7 linked regions of the Homo sapiens genome follow. The gene in region 7 interacts genetically with the main gene of each other region. Each region holds a gene or a part of one and is shown on either strand. Other genes may lie near its edges. The genes, in order: KDELR2, DNAJC3, UBA6, XPOT, MANF, SLC35E1 and GBF1.

Region 1 (3,500 bases), on a different chromosome or scaffold from region 7:
GAAATACATTCCTGTGGATGGCATACCATACCTTCATAGATGTGTTATACAATGAAATAAATGAAGTAAAAAGATCCAGGTAACGAGTTGTGAAGACCAGTGCAAACAGAAGCTGGCTTTTCCCAGAAATACCTAGAGAAACAGAAGGGAAGTATTAGAAGGGCCTGAAGAGCTTTGGGATTCCTGTGGATCACACTGTGCAGGGAGTGCAGACAGGGAAGGAGGGGTGCGTGGGGTCAAGGCCCAGGTCTAGGGATGGCTCTGAATGAACAAGAGCAGTTGTAGTTTTTCTATCCCTTCCCATTCCCAAACATGCTCCTTTTGGGAGGCTCTAACAGGCTTTTCTGTCTCACTATAAAGGGCGACCACAGGAAAGGGGCTTTATTATGCCAGGATGTGTATCATTCAAACGAACCTTTTACTTCTCAAATATATCACCTTAAGTAGGAACAAATTTCTCAATAATTCTGCTGTCATTTAGTGTTATAACTTGTCTCTTACATTCAGATTTTTCTTTTTTGTTTTCCCCTGAGACAGGGTCTCCCTCTGCTGCCCAGGCTGGAGTGCAGAGGCACGATCAAGCTCACTGTAGCCTTGACCTCCTGGGCTTCAGCAATCTTCCCACCTCGGCCTCCAGAGTAGGTGGGACTAGAGGTGTGAACTACCACACCCAGCTAATTTTTAAACAAATTTTTTGTTCACCATGTTGCCCACACTGGTCTTGAACTCCTGGGCCCAGCTTCCCAAAGCGTTGGCATTACAGGTATGAGCCATGTCGCCTGGTCCCTTCTTTGTATGGTAAAACAGTATCTCCATGGTGAGAAATCTTTTGAGAACGGAGATGGAGTCTACTGTCATTAAGGGGGATGAGGAGTAGATGAGAAGCACCGACTCAGGTAAGAGTTGGGCAGGAACTCCCGCTGGAATAATGGCATCGCATCCCATGGTGACTTCTTTGCTAAGAGCGGCAATTACTTGGATATGTTAAGATTTTTAAAGCTTCCCTCTCAGTTAGGCATAGTGGTCATGCCTATAATCTCCACATATAGGGGGGCTAAGGCGGGAGAATCGCTTGAGCCCAGGAGTTTGAGACCAGACTCCATCTCTACGAAAAATAGAAAAGTGATAGCCAGGCAAGGTGGCACACACCTGTGGTCCCAGCTACATGGGAGGTTGAGGTGGGAGGATTGCGTGACTCCAGGAGGCTGAGGCTGAGTGAGCTGTGGTCACATCCCTGCACTCTAGCCTGGGTGACAGAGCAAGACCCTGTCTCAAAAAATAAATTAATTACAATAAAATAGAAATTCCATTGTATTTGTATAAAAATGTTCCTGAATGCTAGGACAACATGAAGGTATGAACCCACAACTACAGCTGGTCTTCAAAAGCAGCTGTCTTTTTTAAAGCCTTGAAACTGTGTTTCCACTTCCAACCACCAACCCACCTCCAGAGCACTGCATGGCACAGCCACACTCAGCCAGGAAGGCTGGACATTTATGTGGTGTGCACACAGCTTTTCTGACATCTATATTTGGCCAAATATTTATGTGACAAAGGACGCAAACTATGGGTTTCAGATGCTGGAGACTGAGCAAATGCATTAAAGAAACTGAAGGCTGACTAAATGTCAGAACCCACCCACCCTCATCTATAATGCATACTTCACACCACTACACATTTTAGTAAGTATGAATTTAACAGAAAAGTCACTTCACCCAAATCATTCACAACACTCCTCTGGAACGTGAAAAGCACATTATTTTTCTTTTCTTTTTTTGAGACTGGGTCTCACTCTGTTGCCCAGGCTGGAGTGCGGTGGCACAAGTACAGCCCACTGCACCTTTGACCTCCCTGGGCTGAGGTGATCCTCCCACCTCAGCCTCCTGAGTAGCTGGGACTACAGGTGGGTGCACCACCACACCTGGCTAATATTTGTATTACATGTTGTTTTTCAATATTTTATGAACAATCATTTTGCAGCTTGCTGAAACTGAAAACCTGAATGTAAGAATGTTACTTTCTCAGATGAATAACTGTAGTCTCAGCCTATTCACATACACATCTAAATAGAAATGGAAAAAAATGTTGATGCCACCCTTCCAGATCCATCAATAGAAACCAAAGGGCCAAAGGAGGAGACACGGACAGTGAATCTGCTCTTAGTCTTTTCCCCGTAACGGATAACTGATTTCTTCCTACAGAGACCAATGTTCCAAAGGGGAAATGACAAGGCTGCTGCTAACCAAGAAACCGGGAGGTTTCAGAGGGGGAAGAAGAAAGAACAGGGAGCAGTCAGACCATACCTGGTGTTTGTTGAAGCCTTGAGAAATCAATTTCCAGCTTATTTCCTATATGGTTCTTTCCAATATTTTAAATATAAACATACAGGATACAAGTAGGTGAATTTTGTGGGAAAGGGTTTTACTCTAACAGAACTTTGGAAGCCAGGCAGATTTGAAATTGTGTCCTCATTCCCAGCATTCCTATACTGAAAACCAGGGACCATCATATTGTCTTTACCAGCCCCCGTGGGGACCCAGCTCATATCCCACCTCCTCTGGGATGTCATCTCTGAAGATACCCTCCCTCAGGACTGTTGATTCATTCAGCAAGCACATAAGGGGAACTGCTTCATGCCAGCTGCTGCCCTAGCTCCAATTACAGTACTTATAAAAATACACTGTGATGATGTGGTTCCTGCCTCTCCTCTCCCCAAAAACCTCACTCAGTACCAAGATCTTTAAAGGCTGGGGTCATGCCTTATTCCATCTTGTATTCCCTGCATGGGACACTGGGCCCTGACACACAGCAGGACTCAGAAAATATTTGCTGAATGAATAAATGGACAAAAGAAAATGGGATTCATTTTATCTTCATGTCATGGGGTCAAATTCTCATTTTGTGGTATTTTGGGAGAACACTTCTGAAGAATGTCCAGGTCATACTGTGTCTCTGTGACTGTAAATAGGGCTCTGCCCTAATTAACTACTAGCTAGAGGGTGAGAGAGCCCCAGGTGCGCACAGGGCAGTGTGTGGTTTGAAGCCGGTCCATGGAGTAGCGTCCACGCAGGACAGCCTTGCTGGAAATCTGCGGATGCTAACGTGGTCCCACACTGTTCTTCCCCAGCCTGAGATCCTGATTAGGAAGTAGCAGCTTCTTCCTTTAAAACAACAAAACTGTCCTGTCTTCATAGGAAAATGGGAATCCTAGCTGAAGACAGAAGGGGGTGGGGCAAGAATCTCCTGGAGGGGTTGGGAGTAGAATACCTGCTATTAAACCAGAGCAGCTCCTAGTCGGCTTCTCTCCACTTTGAGATCAAAGCATGCTAAGGTTACCAGGTAATAAGATCTCCCAGAATACTCACTTTTGTAAATGTTTCTGAAACTGATATCCCCTTACCAAATACACCAAACATCTATATTAAGGAGTACAACTTGTTAAATGGAAATCAGTCATTAAACAACATCATTCTTGTCTTATCCTACTGGGCCAGGTTAAA
Region 2 (3,500 bases), on a different chromosome or scaffold from region 7:
CAAAAGCCATATGCAAAAAAATAAAATACCTAGGAAAACACTGACCAAGGAGGTGAAAGATCTCCATGAGAACTACAAAACACTTATGAAACAAATCATATATGTCATAAATAAACACAAAAACATCCCAGGCTCATGGATTTGGAGACTATCATTAAAATAACCATACTGCCCATAGTAATCTGTAGATTCAACACAATTCCTATCAAATCACCAATGTCATTTTTCAGAGAACTAGGAAAAACAATTCTAAAGTCCATACAGCACCAAAAAAGGGCATGAATAGCCAAAGTAATCCTAACCAAAAAGAACAAATCCAGAGGCATCACATTACTTGACTTCAAATTATACTACAAGGCTATAGTAACTAAAATGGCATGGTACTGGTACAAAAATACGCACACAGATCAATGGACTACAATAGAGAACCCCAGAAATAAAACCACATACTTACATCCAACAGATTGATCTTTGACAAAGCTGACAAATATAAACAACAGGGAAAGGACACCCTAATTCAATAAATGGTGCTGGGAAAATTGGCTAGCCATATGCAGAAGAAACTGGATCTCTGTCTCCCAGCATATACAAAAACTACCTCAAGATAGATTAAACATTTTGGACATTGGCCTAGGCAAACAACTTATGACGAAGACCCCAAACACAAATGCAACAAAACCAAAAATAAACAAATGGGACTTAACTAAAAAGCTTCTGCACATCAAAAGATAATCAACAGGGCAAAGAGACAAACTACAGAATGAGAGAAAACATTTGCAAATTATGCCTCCGACAAAGGACTAATATCCAGAATCTACAAGACACTCAAACAACTCAACAAGAAGAAAACAAAGAACCCCATTAAAAAGTGGGCAAAGGGCCAGGCGCACTGGCTCACGCCTGTAATCCCAGCACTTTGGGAGGCCAAGGCGGGTGGCTCACAAGGTCGGGAGATCAAGACCATTCTGGCTAGCACAGTGAAACCCTGTCTCTACTAAAAATACAAAAAATTAGCCGGGCATGGTGGCAGGCACCTGTAGTCCCAGCTGCTTAGGAGGCTGAGGCAGGAGAATGGCGTGAACCTGGGAGGCGGAGCTTGCAGTGAGCCAAGATCGTGCCACTGCATTCCAGCCTGGGCGACAGAGCAAGACTCTGTCTCAAAAAAAAAAAAAGTGGGCAAAGGACATTAAGAGACATTTCTCAAAAGAAGACATACAAGCAGCCAACAAACATGAAAAAATGTTCATCACTAATCATCAGAGAAATGCAAATTAAAACCACAATGAAATATCAATCATCTTACACAAGTCTGAGTGGCTATTACTAAAAAGCTTAAAAAAAAATAGATGTTAGCATGGAGGTGAAGAAATTGTAACACATATATGGGTGGCAGCAATGTAAATTAGTTCAACCACTATGGAAAACAATATGGAGATTTCTAAAAAAAAACAAAAAACCTACCACCAAGCCCCAACTCCAACATTAGGGATTACAATTCAACATAAGATTTGGGTGGGGCACAGATCCAAACCATATCATTCCGCCCCAGCTCCTCCAAAATATCATGTTCTCACATTACAAAATACAATCATCCCTTCTCAACAGCCCCCAAAGTCTTAACTCATTCCAGCATTAACTCAAAAGTCCAAAGTCTCATCTGGGACAAGCCAAGTCCCTTCCACCTATAAGCCTATAAAATCAAAAACAAGTTAATTACTTCCAAGATACAATGGGATTATAGGCATTGGGTAAATAGTCCCATTCCAAAAGGGTAAAACCGGCCAAAAGAAAAAGGCTACGGGCCCCATGCACGTGCTAAAACCCAGCAGGGCAGTTATTAAATCTTAAAGCTCCAAAATAATCTCCTTTGACTCCATGTCTCACATCCAGGGCATATTGCAGCAAGGGGTGAGCTCCCAAGGCCTTGGGCAGTGCCACTCCTGTGACTTTGCAGGGCTCAGCCCACGCGGCTGCTGTCAAGGGCTGGCAATGAGTGGCTGCAGCTTTTCCAGGTGCATGGTGCAAGCTGTCAGCGGATCTACCATTCTGGGGTCTGAAAGATGGTGGTCTTTCTCACAGCTCCACTAGGCAGTGCCCCAGTGGGGACTCTGTTGGGGGCTCCAACCCCACATTTCCCCTCTGCACTGCCCTAGTAGAGATTTTTCCATGAGGGCTCTGCCCCTGCAGCAACCTTCTGCCTGAACATCCAGGCTTTTCCATATATCTGAAATCTAGGCTGAGGCTCCCAAGCCTCAATTCTTGGCTTTCAGCACCTGCAGGCTTAACAGCATGTGGAATCTTCCAAGGGTTTGGGCTGGCACCGTCTGAAGGCCTGAGCTATATCTGGGCCCCTTTCAGCCATGGCTGGAGCTGGAGTAACTAGGATGCAGGCAGCAGTGTCCTGAGGCTGGCAGGGCCCTGGCCCAGGAAACTGTTCTTCCCTCCTAGGTCTCTGGGCCTATGATAGAAGGAGCTGCCTTAAAGGTCGCTGAGATGCCTTGGAGCCCTTTTTCCCATTGTCTTGGCTATCAGCACTTGGCTCCTCTTTACTTATGCAAATTCATGCAGTCTGCTTGAATTACTCCCCTATAAATGGGTTTTTCTTTTCTACCACATGGTCAGACTGAAAATTTTCCAACTCTTCTGCTCTGTTTCCCTTTTAAATGTAAGTTCCAATTTTACATCATTTCTTTGTTCATGAATATGAGCACTGGCTGCTAGAGGCCAGGTCACATCTTGAACACTTTGCTGCTTAGAAGTTTCTTCCACCAGATACCCTAAATCACCTCTCTCAAGTTCAAAGTTCCACAGATCCATAGACCAGGGGTACAATGCCACCAGTCTCTTTACTAAAGCATAGCAAGAGTGGCCTTTACTCCAGTTCCCAATAAGTTCCTCATCTGCGGTCATTCTGAGCCCTCCTCAGCCTGAACTTCACTGTCTATACCACTATCAGCATTTTGGTCACAACCATTCAACAAGTCTCTAGGAGGTTTCAAACTTTCGTTCCTCTTCCTGTCTTCCTCTGAGTCCTCCAAACTGTCCCAACCTCTGCCCATTACCCCATTCCAAAGTTGCTTCCTTCTACAATTTCAGGTATCTTTATAGCAATGCCCCACTCCCAGTACCAATTTTCTGTATTAGTCCATTCTCACATTGCTATAAAGAAATACCCGGAACTGGGTAATTTTTTTTTTTTTTTTTTTGAGATGGAGTTTTGCTCTGTCACCCAGGCTGGAGTGCAGTGGTGCAATCTCGGCTCACTTCATCCTCTGCCTCCCAGGTTTAAGCAATTCTCTGCCTCAGCCTCCCAAGTAGCTGGGATTTCAGGCGCCCACCTCCACAACAGGCTAAGTTTTTTTTTTTTTGTATTTTTAGTAGAGACGGGGTTTCACCATCTTGCCCAGGCTGATCTTGAACTCCTGACCTCGTGATCCATCCACCTCGGCCTCCCAAAGTGCTGGGATTACAGGCGTGAGCCACAGTGCCCAGCCGGAACT
Region 3 (3,500 bases), on a different chromosome or scaffold from region 7:
ACACTAGCCTTGCTTGATCCAAAAGATACTGAGGGATCCTAATGAAAAATAATATAAGGCAAATTAATGCCTTAGCTAATAAAATAGTAGTTTTACTTTTTAAGGTACAGATAATTCAGACTAGATCATAATTTAAGAATGATTAACCTCAACTGATTATCATAGTTAAAGCCAATAGATACGTTAAACACAACCATCATGCAGAGATTCATTTACTAGTCTGACAAATATTTGTTGGTAACCTTTTATTTGCCAGGTATTGATCTAAGTGCTTGAGATACAACAGTGACAAGATCAAATAAAGATTCCCACTCTTGTGAAATATATGTTCTAGTAGCAGGTAAATAGCTAATATACAGTACATGGGCCGGGCACAGTGGCTCACGCCTGTAATCCCAGCACTTTGGGAGGCTGAGGCGGGAGAAATCACCTTAGGTCAGGAGTTCAAGACCAGCCTGGCCAACATGGTGAAATCCGTCTCTACTAAAAATACAAAAATTAGCCAGGTGTGGTGTTGGGTGCCTGTCATCCCAGCTATACTCGGGAGGCTGAGGCAGGAGAATCGCTTGAACTCAGGAGGCAGAGGTTGCAGTGAGCTGAGATCGCGCCACTGCAATCCAGCCTAGGCGACACAGTGAGACTCCGTCTCAAAAACAAACAAACAATAAATATAAGCAAAATACACAGCAGCACAGCAGTCATAGGACAGTAATAAGTGCTCTGAAAAAAAGAAAAAGTAGAGAAGAGTAAAGGGGACTAGACATACTAGACTGGGGCTGAGGACAGGTTGCAGTATTAAATGAGGCCTCTTTAGGAAGTGCAAAGACCAGGGGTGAGACTTGGCCAGGTCACTGTCTCAGAGTTACAAGCAGAGGGAACAACTAAAGCAAAGGTCCCATGCTGGAGCATGATTAGAGTGAGTATTCAAGGACAAATAAGGAGGCCAGTGTAGCTGGAATATTGTGAAGGGAAAGTAAGGAAGGAACTTAGAAGGATAACTAGGAATCTAAATTTAGAGTCTTGCAGACCACGATAAAGACTTTAGCTTTCTTTGGTTCTTTCTTCCTTTCAGTCTCTGCTCAAATTCCACCTTAACAGGTGAGACTATGATAGGCAAAGGGAAAACCTAGACTACTCAGTATAATATAGCAACTCAACACCCCCAACTCCCCATATTTCCTTTTCTCTTTATTCTTCTTTAATTTCTCCATAATACTTACTATCACCTAACATACTTGCCTTATTGTTATGCAAACTCCTTAAGTAGGAAAGAACTTTGGTTTGCTAACTGCTATCTCCCTAATGACTAGAATAGTACCTGGCACACAGCTGGCACCTTAAACAATAATTTGTTGAATAAATGAACAAAAATAGTGATTTGGCAGTTAGATTACTCATAAGCCTGGTCATTAAGTGTCTCAACATAAGAGACGGATCCACTTTTACTTAAGTGTACTGGCCAAATCAGGTTTCTAAACCTATTAACTGAAGAGCTGAATCTCTCGAGAGGTAGCCTGTTGGCCTTCACCTGGCAGATTCACTGTCTTTATTAATGTCATTAGACAAGACTAATGCTTTTATCTGAATTATAGTAACCTCTATATTTAATTTTTTAGTGTGCATCAACTTACATTTAAATTCTTGTTAATCGCTGCATATAATGTTGAATACTTACGTTAACTTCAATCTTTTTGCATGACCAGGCATTACAGGAACATAAAGCATTTTGACTCCCTGTACCACCATTGTTGGCTCAATTCCATACTTCTCCTAAAAGTGAATATCCAAAAAAGAAACAATGAAAGCCTCGCTCAAACATAAAATGCTTATTTAACATTGTTCGTAAACAATGTTTTATGACCAGTAAAAAAAGCAAATTCATGGTAAATAATTATAACTTCCAATAAAATTATAAATAAAAACAAAACAGAAACCAGACATAAAGCTACTAATGAACTAAATGAACAAAAGTATCTCACTTTGACTGCATTTATGAAATCCAAGAGGGTGAAATCTTCTTTTCCATGTACGGTCCATCGATCCCAAATTGTAAATGATATTCCATTTCTGTTACAGAAAAATATTCAGAACAGAAACATTGAAATTTTCTTCCTTTTAGTGATGACACACACACAAAAAAAACCCACTTTCAGAAGTCCATTATTTGTGATCAGGCTAGAAATTAATGTGGGGAAATAAAGGATAATATATCTTCTAAAATATTCCATAATCTTATTTCTTCATCACATCATATAGATAACCACTTTTAATCAGTACCTTGCTGATCCTTCCAGTGTATTATAAATCAGTATGTTTTAGCAAGACAGTGTTGTCTCTCTCTTTTTAAAATGGGTTTCACTGTGTGGATGTTCCAGTACCCCATTACTGGACACTTCGGTTATTCTAATCATTGGCCACGATAAATAATGCCAGAATAATTATCTTGCAAATATATAGTTTGAGACTTGTGCAAATGTATCTGAAATATAGTGCTATATATCCCTTACTGTGGATTATAGTATTTTGTACTCTCATTAGTAATGTATGAGAGTGTCTGCTTTCTCACACCCTTGTTAAGGTAGGTTTTTTTTCAAGTTTTTGGTTGTTGCCAATCTGAAAACTAAAAAGTACAGGCCCAGGAATTGTTCTGCTTTGTCTCAAGCTTGTGGAATTCTTCTAAATCTCATGACCTACAGTCAGACACCAGGGTACCTTCTAATTCATCTGGCAGACACAGATGAAACCATAATGCCAAATAATGTGGCAGATAAAGTGCTGTAAGGGTTCTTTGGCTACTTTAGTCAGAAATATTTAATGAAGATGAGGTTTGAGCTGATCTTGAAGTGATGGCAAAAATTTACACATACACAATAGAAGAAAAAAGAGGTGAAGCTAGTATTTTTCCCTTTTAAAAGGTAAAATATTTTATTTCATTCTCATTATACAAGAGAAATAGACTTTCATACATACCTGATTTTAGTTTTCCTTACTTCAGTTGTCTCTGTAAATACTACAATTGGAATGGCTAAGTTAAGAAAACAATTTTTGTAAGCTTCAAATGGATAGCCACCAGTTACTTTGATCATCTCCAAGGCAACCTAGATAAAAGAAGGTGATCTGATAATATAAACAGCCTAAAACTATCCGTGATTTTAATTGCATCTATTCAACTTTCACGTTTTCAAGCATTTCTCTGTGGATAGTAAAAGCAGCTATGGGACTATAGTAATATAAATTTCTTATTACAGGTCTGTATACTTTTAGTATATTTTATACTTTCAAACTTTCAACCTACTCTATACATGTTAACAGTTATTTAAAAAAATATTAATTCAACCATACAGTCTCCCTATTTTGAAAGCACATGCTGTAACTCAAAAAATAACAACAGTCTAAAATCACTTAATACAGGGGTAAATAACTACATAGCTTCATAGATAATTACATAGAGTAATGATGTAATATGGTATAATAACTAGGGCCGCACTTAAAGATTCTGA
Region 4 (3,500 bases), on a different chromosome or scaffold from region 7:
TCCTTTCCACTTACCCTATAGTTCCAAATGCCCACGTCTTTAAAAAAAATTAATTATAGGCTCATTCTTTATATTTTTCTATCATTCAGCTATAGTCATGATTATAGTTGTAGGCTACATTATATTTAATTGTTTACATTTATCCAACTATCCCAGCACTTTATAATGGATTCTTGTCATGTAACCATTTTACTTAAGACATAACCTATCATAACTGCTTATTTATGTCTGCCTAGACCAAATAACAAGAAAGTTAAATATCACTAATGTGGCCGGGCAGGGTGACTCATGCCTATAATCCTAGCATTTTAGGAGACTGAGGTGGGCAGATCGCTTGAGCTCAGGAGTTCGAGACCAGCCTGGGCAAGATGGTGAAACCCTATCTCTAGAAAAAAATTAAAATAAAAAAAAAATCATTAAGGTAAGTGTTAAAACAGCTTGTATAGATCAAGCCAAGGAAAGAGAAAATAAAATACACATGTCTGCTGCTATGGAAAGTCTCTTAAACGAATCCTTTGCATTACAATTTTTAAATAATTAGAAATAATGACTGATGTTGCATAAAGATCTGCCTTGAATCATATGAGATTTTAATACTTTTGTTTGGCCAAGTAAACAGAAAATAAATCACAACACTCACTGTTTCTATATTCAAAATATATTCAAATACCTCAAATTTTTTTGTTTCTGTTCATTTCTACCCAAAGTAAACTTTTGCCAGGTGCATTTTTATTCAAGTCCTCTAATGCCAATCTGTGGTGACATGATTAAAAAATGATTCAGCAGAGTAACTTACCCTTTGTCTAAAGTCTGAATCAGCATTTGGATTTAGCCCTAATAGAGCCTGTTCATCCATCCTCGCTGTTATACTTGTAGTTTTCTGGTTGTAATAGGCGTGCCCTCTGATCCCACAGAAGAATTTATAAACATCTGCCACAAAAAACAAAGTTGAAAGAAAACATTACTTGATAAACAAATAGATGCTTATCCTGAATAACGTAAATGGATAAAATCATGCAAAGAAGCTTAAATGTTTAAAAACTTATTTTGGAACTTATCTAAATTACAACTAAAAGTTAGAGCCTAATTCTCAGAAAAATGGGCTCTGCTAACTACTCCACTAATGTGTAATTCCTAAAAATCTGATTTTTTTTTTTGAGACGGAGTCTCACTCTGTTGCCCAGGCTGGAGTGCAGTGGCACCGTATCAGCTCACTGCAAGCTCCGTGTCCCAGGTTCACGCCATTCTCCTGCCTCACCCTCCCGAGTAGCTGGGACTACAGGCGCCCGCCACCGCGCTGGGCTAATTTTTTGTATTTTTAGTAGAGTCAGGGTTTCACCGTGTTAGCCAGGATGGTCTTGATCTCCTGACCTCGTGATCCGCCCGCCTTGGCCTCCCAAAGTGCTGGGATTACAGGCATGAGCCACCCCACCTGGCCCCTAAAAATCTTAAAGTATGCCATAAAGGTCCTCAAGCTTTCTTAGTCTTCAAGATCTTCTTAATAAGGTATAGAAAGTAATCATTTTCTACTTTAAATAGTAGAAGTACCTAATTTATGCAGTGTTTTACTTATCTCTAGTACTTAAAAATGCAATTGTGCAACTGCAGTTAAGTATAAAAATGACAAATGCAGACTATTACAGTAATTATAATAATTTGTCTACTTCCAGATACAAATATCACAAACCTTCTTTAAAACATTAGAATGGCTGACCTCAGAGTTCAATATCCTTTGGAGTGTTTACTAAGTACTATGACAGAAGTCTAATGAAAGGAACAGGATAATGAAAAACCAGTCATTTAGCTTTTGAGCAATGGACTTAGTTTTGCATTTTACAGATCTCTGCTCTTGCCAGCCAATTCTAAAAATTTCAAAAAAAAAAAAGTTTTTCAATAGTAGATACAAAAACCCACAAACCAGCCAGCTACAGTGGCTCACACCGGTAATCTGAGAACTTTGGGAGGCTGAGGTGCGCAGATCACTTAAGGTCAGGAGTTCAAGCCAGCCTGACCAATACGGTGAAACCCTGTTTCTACTAAAAAGACAAAAATCAGCCAGGCTTGGTGGCACATGCCAGTAATCCCAGCTACTCGGGTGACTGAGGCACAAGAATCGCTTGAACCCAGGAGGCAGAGGTTGTAGTGAGCCAAGATTGCGCCACTGCACTCCAGCCTGGAGAACAGAGTGAGATTCCATCTCAAAAAAAACAAAACACACAAAAAAAAATCCACAAATGACTTAACACTGACTACTCTTATTTAAGGATTTTTTTTAATCTCTGAGAGGTAATCCACTTCTTCACAATATAGGTTCCAACATTCTCAAATAATAAGCTGCAAAAGGCATCCTAGTTTTTGATAGAATGCATATTCATTTGAGCAAACATGGAACAAACTCTAAATGATGTGAAAAATGATATTATTCTCTCAAGACCTATAAGGTAGGGAGACCAAGTCTTACTACTTCCATTAAACGCTGTGGGGGGCCAGGCGTGCTGGCTCATGCCTGTAATCCCAGCACTTTGGGAGGCCGAGGCAGGTGGATCACTTGAGGTCAGGAGTTCAAGACCAGCCTGGCCAACATGGTAAAATCCCCTACTAAAAATACAAAAAAATTAGTGGAGCATGGTGGCACACACCTGTAATCCCAGCTACTTGGGAGGCTGAGGCAGGAGAATCGCTTGAACCCAGGAGGTGGAGGTTGCAGTGAGCTGGGATCACGCCACTGCACTCCAGCCTGGGTGACAGAACGAGACTCTGTCTCAAAAAAAACAAAAAAAGGCTGTGGGGCTTTTTGTTTCAATTACCGTTAACCAAAGACGCCAAAAAACTAATTGGATTGGGGGTAGGGGAGAAAAGCCTTTTGGGAATAGCAGGGGTAGGGGAGAAAGGCCTTTTGGGAATAGCAAAACCAGGCTCAGGTCCAGGTTACAGGATACCTACAATAGGCTTTTCTGTTTTCCTCTGAGCCTGCCTGAATCAAATAACTCAGGATATGGACTGAGAGCTTTGAAGACAGCTCAGCCCTTTCTCTTATGGTTCATAACGTACTTGCAGACTTCAAGGCAGTGTAACTCCCTACTGCCCTCAGATTACGATCCAAACACTTTTGAATAACTCCTCACTATTCTGCACACCAGGTCAGCAAGGCCAGTGCTAGTGAACCATATGGCAGTTCTCCAGTGGTATTCTACCTTTCATCTTTGCACACTGCTCTTTCTTCTTGTTAGTAGGTTAACCCCTGCTGTCCTTTGAAATTCAACTTAGAAGCCATCTCTTTCAAGAACACTTCTTTGACCTCTATTGTCCAACTCTCCCAAATTGGATTACATGCCCCATCCTAAGCACTGCTATGCTGTCACTGCCAGCTTACTAGTTTTCTCTCATTAATCTTTTTTTTTTTTTTTTGAGACAGTCTCACTCTGTTGCCCAGGGTGGAGTGCAGTGACATGATCTCGGCTCACTGCAGCCTCTGGCTCCTGGGTTCAAGTGATTCTTCT
Region 5 (4,007 bases), on a different chromosome or scaffold from region 7:
TCACCTCCTTCAAAGTTTGCTGAAATATCACTTCTTCAATAAGGCCTATTCTGACCTCCACCCACTTCCATGCCAGAGCCCTCCAGCATTTAGCACCATCTGTCATACAATACAACCCACTCATGACTCTAGCTCATCATTTTCCTCTCCCAGATGGGAAACAAACCCAGAAGGTGCACAGCATTCATTAAGAAAGGACTAGGCATACTCACCATACTTAAGCTCACATATCTGGCTGTCCTTCTTCTTAAGCTTCTCACAGATCTTCTCCACAGGGATGTGGTGGGCCAGAGGCTTTGATACCTCATTGATGATTTTGGTGGCTGCATCATCTGTGGCCCCGATATAGTAGCACTGGAGCAATAAAGGACAATGGCCTTCAGGAGGTGCTTGAGAGCCATCTCCTCCAAACATACTGACACCTTGAAACATCATCTCTCTGTAGGGCCTTACTTGTGTTTTGAGATAGGGCTCCCTGTCACCCAGGCTGGAATGCAGTGGCATGATCACGGCTCCCTGCAGCTTCAATCTGTTGGGTGGTGATCCTCCCCTCTCAGCCACCCTAGTAGCTGGGTCTACCGGTGTGGGCCACCACACCCAGCTAACTAAAACAATTTTTTTTTTTTTTTGAGATAAAGTTTTGCTCTGTCACCCAGGCTGGAGTGCAGTGGCGCAATCTTGGCTCGGCTCACTGCAACCTCCGCCTCCCAGGTTCAAGCAATTCTCCCTGCCTCAGCCTCCTGAGCAGCTGGGATTACAGGCGCCTGTCACCATGCCTGGCTAATTTTTGTATTTTTTAGTAGAGATAGAGTTTTGCCATGTTGGCCAGGCTGGTCTTGAACTCCTGACCTCAGGTGATCCACCCACCTCGGTCTCCCAAAGTGCTGAGATTACAGGTGTGAGCCACCACGCCTAGCCTAAAAATTTTTTTGTGCAGACAGGATTTCACCACTTTGCCCAGGCTGATCTCAAACTCCTAAGTTCAAGCAATCCTCCCACCTTGGCCTCCCAAAGTGCTAGGAAGACAGGCATGAGCCACCGCACCTGGCCCACAGCGGCATTTTTCGGTGCCCTGCCTGTACTGGTAGTCAGATTCAGCCAGTGTAAACCCTGGACTCTTAACACATGCTCAGTCCAAGCTGACAGCCACCAAATGAATTTAAGTGTCACCAGGGTTCAAACCTTTAACAGAGAGAAAAGCCAGAGACTGTCAGAGAAATTCAAGTTAGAAAACCCATTGCTTCACTAGGGCTTTTGTCTTGGATTCGGCCCTTGCCTATCCTGTAGGCACCCTGTCACCTTCTCCTGTCCACATACATGCCACACTCTTTCAGGCCTCTGGGCACTCACACTGCTGTTCCCTGTATGGGATGGTCTTACCCCACTTCAATGATAACCCTTCCTCAGAGACTTCTTGGCCACTCTAAATCAGCACCTGCTGGTCCATTTTCTTCATGACACCCAGACATTGCATTATTTGTGTGTCCGACTGTCACTTCTTTCCCCTGATATTCCCAGTGCCTAGCACATAGTAGGTGCTTAATAAAGACTAACAGGATAAAAAAAAATCACAGTTGCAGAACACATGCTGCTTTGGGAAGGACATAGAAGCACTTCAGTCTTCTCACATTAGTTTATGGAGAGAGTAGCTGGCTTCCTGAACAGAGAGGTGGGCAAGGCCTTTTATCAAACGGCTGGTGAAGCCGAGGGTTAACATGAGCCAGGGCCAGTTGGGGAGGATCACCAGCTACTTACCAACCGATTCTCTTTGCCTCTTGCTTCCCGGCAGAACTTTATAAGTTCGTTTTCAATAGTGGCTGGTGAGAATGTGACATCTCTGTCTTTGAGGTCCTGGTAAAATCTTCCCAGATAAGAAATACAAACTGGAAAAGAGAGGGACGGGAGATGCTCAGCAATCACCAAGCTGTTCCAATCCACCAGAAAAGAACTCCGCCAGCAATTTTAATAGGAGACACGGAGATGAATCATTAGAGGTGAGCTTTTCCATCACCGATTTTTCTCAGGTGTCTACAGGTAGACAGAACCCGGTTCCAAGTGGCGGGGGTCCCCTGGTACACCCAGGGCATCAAAGGACCAAGCATCACCCAATGACCTATAAACGACTTCTCCCTGCTCCTTTCATCAAGTTTAAGCCCATGGTGAACACGTGTCCTTGAGACGGGACTCACTGTGACCTCATAAATGGAGAGACTGGAAGGTGAAGAGAAAAATGATCAAAATGCTGCTGCTAATTTCCAAATACAACAGCGGACCCAGAGGTGCAGCTTCGTGATCCCAACAGACAGGGCGCAGCACCCACGGCCAGCCCTGGAGCTCCCGACGCCGAACGGGGAGCGGTAACCTCTAGATGGTGGTGGGGACAATAACTCAGGAGTGATGGAGATTTCAGGACAAGTTTTCAACGGGATCTAGTCTCAACTTTTCTTCGTCGGACCAATGTTTTCTAGGCCCAAGAAAGATTTACTAGGGCGGGCGCCGGAGCCTCCTCATGCAGGCCCCGCGGGGACCTGCTGTCGCCCCCGCCCCCGCCCCCGCCCTCGCCCTCTTGGCCCCGGCCGTCTGGTGATGTTGTGGGGTTCAGCGCCGCCGCCAGAACGGTCACGGAGCGCGGCCCCCGGCCCCCTATCCCGCACCTTCGCAGTCGCCCGGCCGCAGCGCCCGGCTGCCCGGCAGCACGCTCAGAGCCAGCGCCACCGCCAGCCCCTGCGTGGCCCACATCCTCCTCATCCTCCTCATCCTCCTCCTCCTCCTCCTCCTCCGCTGCCGCCGCCGACCGACTGAACCGCACCCGCCGCGCCGCACCGCCTCCAAGTCCCGGCCGCGCGCCGTAGCTCCCCATTGGCGGGGGGCCCCCCGGCGCCCTCCCACATGCCACTTCCCCATTGGTCCAGGAGCCGCGAGCCCAGACGGGCGGCTCCACGCTGCCCTCCCTCATTGGCTGGTGGTGTCTGAGCCCTAGACAGTTGTCGGCCGCTGATTGAACCCGGGCTGGCCGCAGGAAGCGACTACAGCAGCGACGGAAGCGGTGTGGGCCGCCATCTTGGGTAAGGGCAGCGACTGTGGCTGAGGCTGGGTACTGCTAGCTGAATGGGGTTCGGCCACGCCTTACATCTGTTGAGTTGACCCGCGTACCCCTGCCCTGGGCCCCAGGCTCCCTCGAAAACCCCTGCTGATCTCCTCGCCCGGACTCCGACTCGTGGTGCAGGAGTTCTGGGGTCAGCCAAGACAACAGGTTAGGCAGGAAGGGCGGGCGGCCGCAGGCAAGGCTCAAAGAGGTTTCTTTTTTCTTCTTTCATTCGCGTGGGCAACGGATCCAACCTTTGAAAGCCCACCTGCTGATCCTCCACCTGACCGGAGCCCGCCGTGCATAGGCTGATAGGAGACGTGCGGGGTGGACGGACTGCGGGACATCTGAAGGAAGGGCTCAAGGCGCGCCAAGCTCAAAGCTGGGCCGCCACTCTAGACCGTGGAGGGAAGCGCCCGGGCCAGATCATCGGTCGAGGACATGGGGTCGCCTCAGAGTGGGAAGGTGAGGGGCTCGGGAGGTGCCCTTACAAGCTCTGAATCGTGGCTTGGTGGCTGGCCAGCCTCCTCCTGCCTCCCCGGCTAGGCCCTCGGGGTCCCCCGCTGCCGTGGGACCTCCTGAGTGGGGTCCCGGGAATCACCAGAGAAGCACTGGAGGATGTTTCCTTTTCGACTGCCCTCCTTTCAAGTGCCCTCCTGGCTGCCTGCCTTCAAGGCAGGATGCGGGAACCGTTGGCTCTACTCAGTGCAAAAAGGACATGTCTATAGGGCTAAAAAGGGCTTGGAGCCCGGCGACAAGGGTTGGAGAGGGGCACATCCTCTGCTCCCATTCAGTGAATTCAGTGGATCAGTATCACGTATTTATCTTTAATTCACATCACAGCAGTCAAGGAAGTGGGGAAAGGGGGAAAAAAAATCAAGTGGCAGATATTTACATCTAAAATTCACATTACTTGTTGGAT
Region 6 (3,040 bases), on a different chromosome or scaffold from region 7:
CTCCATCTTTACAAAAAATACAAAAATTAGCCAGGTTTGGTGGCACATGCCTGTATCCCAGCTACTTGGGAGGCTGAGGCGGAAGGATCCCTTGAGTCTGGGAGGTTGTGGCTGCTGAGAGCCGGGATTGCGCCACTGTACTCCAGCCTGGGCGACAGAATGAGATCCTGTCTCAAAAAACATGAAACATACCAAAAAAAAAAAAAAAAGTTTCATAAGCACAGCTGCCACAATGTTCCTGGACTTCCCATGTTATTCCGTTCAATAAAGTCACGTCATTAATTTAGCTGTGATCCTATTTTCATTGTATCATCTAATCAATTCACAAATTGCACGTCCTTATTTTTGGCTCAGAAGAAAAAACAAAGGTTGCAGTAAATCCAGACGTGACAGCCAAGTTGGCTTGCTCTTTCTCCTCCTTCCACATTTTGTTGCTGGGCACACTGAAGACAGGGCCACTCAAAAAGAGACCCTCGCTGACAAATCGGGACCAATTTTGATTCCCTGGAAACCATCATTTATTTTTGGTAAATGCCAGTGAGGAATATACACGTCATTCCTGCAGAAAAGTCTATAGCATTTAAGTCTTGAAAACAGGTGACAATTGAAAAACATTATAATATTTTCAGGTCTTTTAATAATTCAATGCTCTGTGTCCTTCAGGCTGTGAGACCCTAAGGTATTGGGGTCTGGTAATGTCCCAGCTATAGCAAAGGGCCTGTTGGGTGACATAGGACAAATATACAGCAAAATTCAGAAACTGCAAGTGCTTCCTCACTTGAACGGATCTGGCCCCTTTGTGGTAGGGGCTTGACTGTTCCTAGAATGAATGACTTAAAATAAGGTGGTTAAAAATTCTGCAGTGAGTCTCGCCATGGTGAACAAACATGATTCAGAAATGCCTCCTTCTATAAAATGAAGGAGCTGGGTTGGAGTCAGTATTACCAGCCAGACCATACCCTGATGGGTAAAGGAAATTCTCTACCACAGAGCTCAGCAGTGAGGTGGCTGAGAGGAAGGCAGGCCTGCAGATGAAAGCGTGGGAGTGGAGCATGTGGGGCGGGCACTGTCCGGCTGGGAAAACCCAGCCTTCAAGAGGCCATTGTCAATCAGGCTGGGCACGGTGGCTCATGCCTGTCATCCTAGCACTTTGGGAGGCCAAGGTGGGCGGATCATTTGAGGCCAGGAGTTCGAGACCAGCCTGGCCAACATGGTGAAACCCTGTCTCTACTAAAAACACAAAAAATTAGCCAGCCGTGGTGGTGCATGCCTGTAATCCCAGCTACTCGGGAGGCTGAGGCACGAGAATCACCTGAACCCGGGGGATGGAGGTTGTAGTGAGCTGAGACTGCGCCACTGCACTCCAGCCTGAGCAACAAAGCAAGACTCCATCTTGGCAGGGGGCGGGGGGATGTGGACCTTCAAGTCTCAGAAATATGTGTTTGTCTTTTGATCTGCTGATTTGGTGTAACGTGATTGCCTCATTCATTCCAGTGTACGTACTTGCTGTAAATTTATATACAGAATTAAATAGCCCATTTATTAATTTATAAACCATAATAAAACCAGACAGTCATTTCCCGTCACCAGCAGATCTTGCATTGGAAAAGGAAAATAATATACAAATTTCAGCAACTTCAGAGATTTCAGGAAGCCTGAATGGAGGTCGAATTCATTTTGGAGTTCAATAATATGTTCAAAGAATCAGGTACTATATATAATCATATAGACAACTCCCGTAATATCTCCGCAGTGCAAAATTATCCCTGTTTCTTGTCATTCACCAGTGAGAAAAATCCAACTGCAGACTTGACTGCCTTCGGTGAAGGCACACGGCAAGTTCTTCTGACAAATAACACCCTTTGGGATTGACTCTTCACGTTTTACACAGCAATTGTCTCAGCTTGGGACCAAAGTATTTACAAAGCAAGCGAACAAGAGACGAAGCAAGAGGGACACTTCTGAGGCCGGTGGTGCGGAAACTCACCGCCAAACAGGGTGGGGGGCCAGTCACCTCTTCAGGAGTGTCCCATGTGTCAGCTGACATAACATCTTAAATACAGAATTCCAATTGAAAGAAAAACAAACAACAACAAAAGAAACACCAGTCAAGCATAAGTGATGTTACTTCCTCTCTGAACAGGGAAACATCTCGCTCGCTGGGAGATAAAAGGTAAATCTCTCATTTGCTGCTCTCTTCCCCTAAGTGCCAGCAAGAAGCTGGGTGTGGTGATGAAGAAAGAAGGCAGCCATCACCTAAGACCCCACAAGCCAAGCCGTGGTCCCCTCCGTGAGGGCACGGTCCTTTCATGAAGCCGTAAAAGAGACCACAGCTCGGACCTGAGCACTCAGGGTTACCTACTGGGGTCTTGTCATATTCCTTATGTTGATTTCTGCCAAGACCCAAACTGATTCCTTTTTTTTTTTTTTTTTTTTGAGACAGAGTCTCACTCTGTCACCAAGGCTGGAGTGCAGTGGTGTGATCTCAGCTCGCTGAAACCTCCACCTCCTGGGCTCAAGTGATTCTCCTGCCTCAGCCTCCCAAGTAGCTGGGATTACAGGCAGGTGCCACCATGCCTGGCTAATTTTTGTTTTAGTAGAGATGGGGTTTCACCATGTTGGCCAGGGTGGTCTCAAACTCCAGTGATCCACCCACCTCAGCCTCCCAAAGTGCTGAGATTACAGGCATGAGCCACCACGCCTGGCCCCAAACTGACTCTTGACCAAAGAATCTGATTTGGCAAACCAAATCTTAGTGCAGTGTTCGCTCCTCGTCCCCTTACCCAGAACATGATTCAGATCCTAACATAAACACAAAAACAGGTCAGGGAACCAAAACACTGTGGTCTTGTCTATTATACAAAATATTGAGATAATGTTCACGATTCATTCTGTTTTCAGCAATTGTGACAATTTTGAAGCTTCTCTCGAAGCTTCGAAACACTTCATTTCCTACTAAATACCAAAACGTGTCAGACAGGCATCACCAGTGGGAACTTGGTTTTGTTTTGTTTTTTTTTTTGAGATGGAGTCTCGCTCT
Region 7 (3,500 bases):
CTCTCTACTAGAATCCCTGAAAGGAAACCTCTGCAAATTCATTCCAAGTCCCTGACCCAGCCTTCTCTTCCCAAGCCTGAAGACTGCAAGCAGCTAGTTCCTCATAGCTTATGGTCCTGTCATTTCCCATGGGAAGAGCGGCAACAGTTCTCTCTAGTGGCCTTCTTCCCTCGGCTCACAGACCCTGCTCAGCAGCATTCCCACGCCCCCTTGGGCCTCCTCTTAGGCCCCCTGCTTGCTACTCAGTGCCTATCAGGCTAGGCTAGAGAGACTCACCACAGGCCCCCAGCTCAGATGGAATCTCTGGGGGCGGTGGATGGCCAGGTGTCCTAGTGTCGCCAGCAGCGGAAGTCAGGTGGGCTGAGGCGAGAGGCTTTTGGCCTTGAGGCTCCATGGGCATGGGGTCTGGAGACGGTAGAGAATTGAGATGGCACCTCTTAGTGCTTTCTCTCTCCAGCAGAGCCCTAGCTACCCAACAGCCTTTCTACCCACCCAGGGCACAGACAATAAATTCAGCTTTGGGGACTTTTTTTTTTTGAGATGGAATCTCGTTCTGTCACTCAGGCTGTGATCTCGGCTCACTGCAACCTCCACTTCCCGGGTTCAAGTGATTCTCCTGTTTCAGCCTCCTGAGTAGCTGGGACTACAGGCACCCACCGCCACACCTGGCTAATTTTTGTATTTTTCGTAGACATGGGGTTTCACTATGTTGGTCAGGCTGGTCTCAAATTCCTGCCCTCGGGTGATCCACCCACCTCGGCCTCTCAAAGTGCTGGGATTAGAGGTGTGAGCCATTGTGCCCAGGCAGGAGACTCTTTTTGATAAAGCTGGGCTGAGCCCCCTACCCTGGATGACGGTCTGCTTGAAGAGTTCATCTCGTAGGTGAGGGAGAAAACAGTCAATGCGTTCCCAGGTGATCTCCCAGAGGGCCGAGGGGCCGCCTCCCCGTGCATCTGCACTGTGGAAAATCTCCGCTGTGTCCATCACCAGAAGCATGTTCTTCAGAGACTCAGGGATCGCCTCTGACTGCAGGTGGCAGTGGGACCATGAGAATAGGAAAGAGGGCATGGGGGGAGTATGGTAAAGGGAGGTAGCTACCAAGGGGGAAAGGGCAAGTCCTTCCAACAGGTGGGACAGGAGGCAGGCAGCAGAGCTGAGGTAGAACATACCAGTAAGTCGCTGGAGCCTGCGTGCATGTACTTGTCCATGAAGTCCAAGATGGTGAGCCAGAGGGCCGCAAAGGTAGAGAGTGACAGCAGTGGAGACAGGTGCTGCAGGAAGACCTATGGCCCACCAGCCCCCTTCAGCTGAGGGGACTGTAGGAGCCTCTGGACCCCTCTCTGAGGCTGGGTAGCTAAGCCTGTCCTATCTTGCATGAGAATCTTAGATCAGAGATGGAGGAATCTCTGATTTAAGATTCAGAATCCTCTCAGGTCCCTAGGTCCTGCTTAGTGTCCATAGCTGGGGGGTTGTGAGCACCTACAGTGCATCTCTAGGTCCTGCCAGAAGCCCTGGCTTCCCTCCTCGGGAAAAGGCAGGTATGGGAGAGAGGGTGGGTATAGGGTGGTGAGCAGTACCTTAGAGAGCAATGTGGAAGCCCTCATCCGGGTCTCCTCCATCCCACCCACATCTGCAGGGCTGATGTTCTCCAAGAGCTTGGTAAGTAGAGGAAACAGCACCTGGTGGGGGTAAATGTGCAATGTCTCCCTATGAGGTTCAGCTAGGCAGCCTTGCCCCAAGGAAGCCAGGAACTGGATGGGCATAGAGCTGAAGGGAAGGTATGATGCAGGCTGAAGACTCACATTAGGGGCTCTTCAGGCTGCCTGGCTTTCCTTTTCTTAGGATTTGAACTTTATCTTAAGACCAGTAGGAAGTCCCACCTTGTTAAAACAGGACTCCCATTCCAGGGCATCTAGCTTTTGCAGATCATGTACAAGTAGTGCTCGCTGCAGATAGGTCAGTGCCTGCATCCGTACCTGGCGCCGGGCATCGCAGCACAGGCAGGCAATACCTGAGAGCAAGAGCAGGGTCAGGATCCTTCAGGCATCTTGATCCTGATGCTCCCCAAACTCCCTACCTCTGCCCCTCCTGGTTTACCCTGCAGTAAAGGGCACCAGCAGTGGGCCCAGAGGGTGCGAGAATCAGCTTCAATCTTCTGGCCACCTGTCTCCAGGTGGCGTTGCTCCTCCGCCCATGAGCTGTAGATAGAGGCTGCCCGCGTGTGCAGGGTGTGCATCAGGTCTAGCAACTAGGATCACAGGAGGGGGCAGGATGTGAGTGGGGTTAGGTCTCGTGGATCCCTTTCCCCCTCCCCACTCACTGTCCCTAACTAAGTCCTCAAGGTGTCCCTAGCACCAATCATGCCATACCTCACCCCCTCGCTACTCTTTCCCTTGACTTGACTTCCTGGTTGTTCCAGTCCTTGTAAAGGACTCTCCAAGTCAGAGATTACTCATGAGAGAGAGAGCCTTAGGAGGTGTGTGGACTGAGTATTTCACAATCCTTACTCACAGTGAGAAAGATACTTTCTTTTCAATTCTATTTCACACCTGCTGATGACAGAGAAAGCCTCATGTTGTTAATTTAATTTTATTTTTTGAGGCAGGGTCTCACTCTGTCACCCAGGCTGGAGTGCAGTGGCACAATCACGGCTCGCTGCAGCCTCGAACTCCTGGGCTCAGGTGATCCTCCCACCTCAGCCTTATGAGTAGATGGAACTACAGCTGTGCGCTGCCACAGCCAGCTAATTTTTTGTATTTTTGTAGAGATGGGGTTTTGCCATGTTGCCCAGGCTGATCTTGAGCTCCTGGGCCCAAGCAATAGTCCTCCCAAAGTTTTAGGATTACAGGTGTGATTATACCATGCCCGGCCTAATTTTATTTCTTATTTTATTTTTTGAGACAGGGTCTTGCTCTGTGCAAAACTGGAGTGCATGGCACCATCATGGCTCACTGCCTCCTGGATCTCCTAGGCTCAAGAAATCCTCCCACCTACTCAGCTACTCAGCCTCCCCAGTAGCTGGGACTACAATGTGTGCCACCATGCCCAGATAATTTTTGCATTTTTATTTTTGTAGAGGCAGGGTCTCGCTATTTTTCCCAGGCTGGTCTCGAACTCCTGGCCTCAAGTGATCCTCCCGCCTCAGCCTCCCAAAGTGCTGGAATTACAGGTGTGAGCCACTGTACCTGGCTGTTAATCTCATTTTTAAAACAGAAAACCTCAGGCTCAGAGGCTTTGATTGGGCAATAGTGTCTGGCCAGATTTAATACATTTTTACTTTCGTTATTTTTCTTTTCTTTCTTTTTTTTTTTTTTGAGATGGAGTCTTGCTCTGTCGCCCAGGCTGGAGTGCAGTGGCATAATCTCGGCTCACTGCAAGCTCTGCCTCCCGGGTTCACGCCATTCTCCTGTCTCAGCCTCCCGAGTAGCTGGGACTACAGGCGCCTGCCACCATGCACAGCTATTTTTTCTATTTTTAGTAGAGACGGGGTTTCACCGTGT

What was found.
Region 1: changes in GBF1 (region 7) and KDELR2 together harm fitness less than expected from each alone (positive genetic interaction), as found in Homo sapiens cells (one study listed by BioGRID).
Region 2: changes in GBF1 (region 7) and DNAJC3 together harm fitness more than expected from each alone (negative genetic interaction), as found in Homo sapiens cells (one study listed by BioGRID).
Region 3: changes in GBF1 (region 7) and UBA6 together harm fitness more than expected from each alone (negative genetic interaction), as found in Homo sapiens cells (one study listed by BioGRID).
Region 4: changes in GBF1 (region 7) and XPOT together harm fitness more than expected from each alone (negative genetic interaction), as found in Homo sapiens cells (one study listed by BioGRID).
Region 5: changes in GBF1 (region 7) and MANF together harm fitness more than expected from each alone (negative genetic interaction), as found in Homo sapiens cells (one study listed by BioGRID).
Region 6: changes in GBF1 (region 7) and SLC35E1 together harm fitness more than expected from each alone (negative genetic interaction), as found in Homo sapiens cells (one study listed by BioGRID).

The regions. Positions count from the first base shown.
Region 1 is NC_000007.14:6,474,153-6,477,652, forward strand, and holds part of KDELR2 (ER lumen protein-retaining receptor 2), read right to left. Parts: intron 133-3,500; coding exon 32-132; intron 1-31. UniProt on the Homo sapiens protein: Membrane receptor that binds the K-D-E-L sequence motif in the C-terminal part of endoplasmic reticulum resident proteins and maintains their localization in that compartment by participating to their vesicle-mediated recycling back from the Golgi.
Region 2 is NC_000013.11:95,683,639-95,687,138, reverse strand, and holds part of DNAJC3 (dnaJ homolog subfamily C member 3 precursor), read right to left. Parts: intron 1-3,500. UniProt on the Homo sapiens protein: Involved in the unfolded protein response (UPR) during endoplasmic reticulum (ER) stress.
Region 3 is NC_000004.12:67,621,156-67,624,655, forward strand, and holds part of UBA6 (ubiquitin-like modifier-activating enzyme 6), read right to left. Parts: intron 3,099-3,500; coding exon 2,971-3,098; intron 2,068-2,970; coding exon 1,980-2,067; intron 1,771-1,979; coding exon 1,676-1,770; intron 1-1,675. UniProt on the Homo sapiens protein: Activates ubiquitin by first adenylating its C-terminal glycine residue with ATP, and thereafter linking this residue to the side chain of a cysteine residue in E1, yielding a ubiquitin-E1 thioester and free AMP.
Region 4 is NC_000012.12:64,407,392-64,410,891, reverse strand, and holds part of XPOT (exportin-T), read right to left. Parts: intron 931-3,500; 5' UTR 857-930; coding exon 797-856; intron 1-796. UniProt on the Homo sapiens protein: Mediates the nuclear export of aminoacylated tRNAs. In the nucleus binds to tRNA and to the GTPase Ran in its active GTP-bound form. Docking of this trimeric complex to the nuclear pore complex (NPC) is mediated through binding to nucleoporins.
Region 5 is NC_000003.12:51,384,084-51,388,090, reverse strand, and holds the start of MANF (mesencephalic astrocyte-derived neurotrophic factor precursor), read right to left. Parts: upstream 2,801-4,007; 5' UTR 2,749-2,800; coding exon 2,655-2,748; intron 1,884-2,654; coding exon 1,756-1,883; intron 355-1,755; coding exon 213-354; intron 1-212. UniProt on the Homo sapiens protein: Selectively promotes the survival of dopaminergic neurons of the ventral mid-brain. Modulates GABAergic transmission to the dopaminergic neurons of the substantia nigra.
Region 6 is NC_000019.10:16,549,337-16,552,376, forward strand, and holds the end of SLC35E1 (solute carrier family 35 member E1), read right to left. Parts: 3' UTR 501-3,040; downstream 1-500. UniProt on the Homo sapiens protein: Putative transporter.
Region 7 is NC_000010.11:102,378,032-102,381,531, reverse strand, and holds part of GBF1 (Golgi-specific brefeldin A-resistance guanine nucleotide exchange factor 1), read right to left. Parts: intron 2,249-3,500; coding exon 2,098-2,248; intron 2,012-2,097; coding exon 1,881-2,011; coding exon of another isoform or gene 1,839-1,880; exon of another isoform or gene 1,803-1,838; intron 1,680-1,802; coding exon 1,578-1,679; intron 1,284-1,577; coding exon 1,170-1,283; intron 1,027-1,169; coding exon 846-1,026; intron 406-845; coding exon 277-405; intron 1-276. UniProt on the Homo sapiens protein: Guanine-nucleotide exchange factor (GEF) for members of the Arf family of small GTPases involved in trafficking in the early secretory pathway; its GEF activity initiates the coating of nascent vesicles via the localized generation of activated ARFs through replacement of GDP with GTP.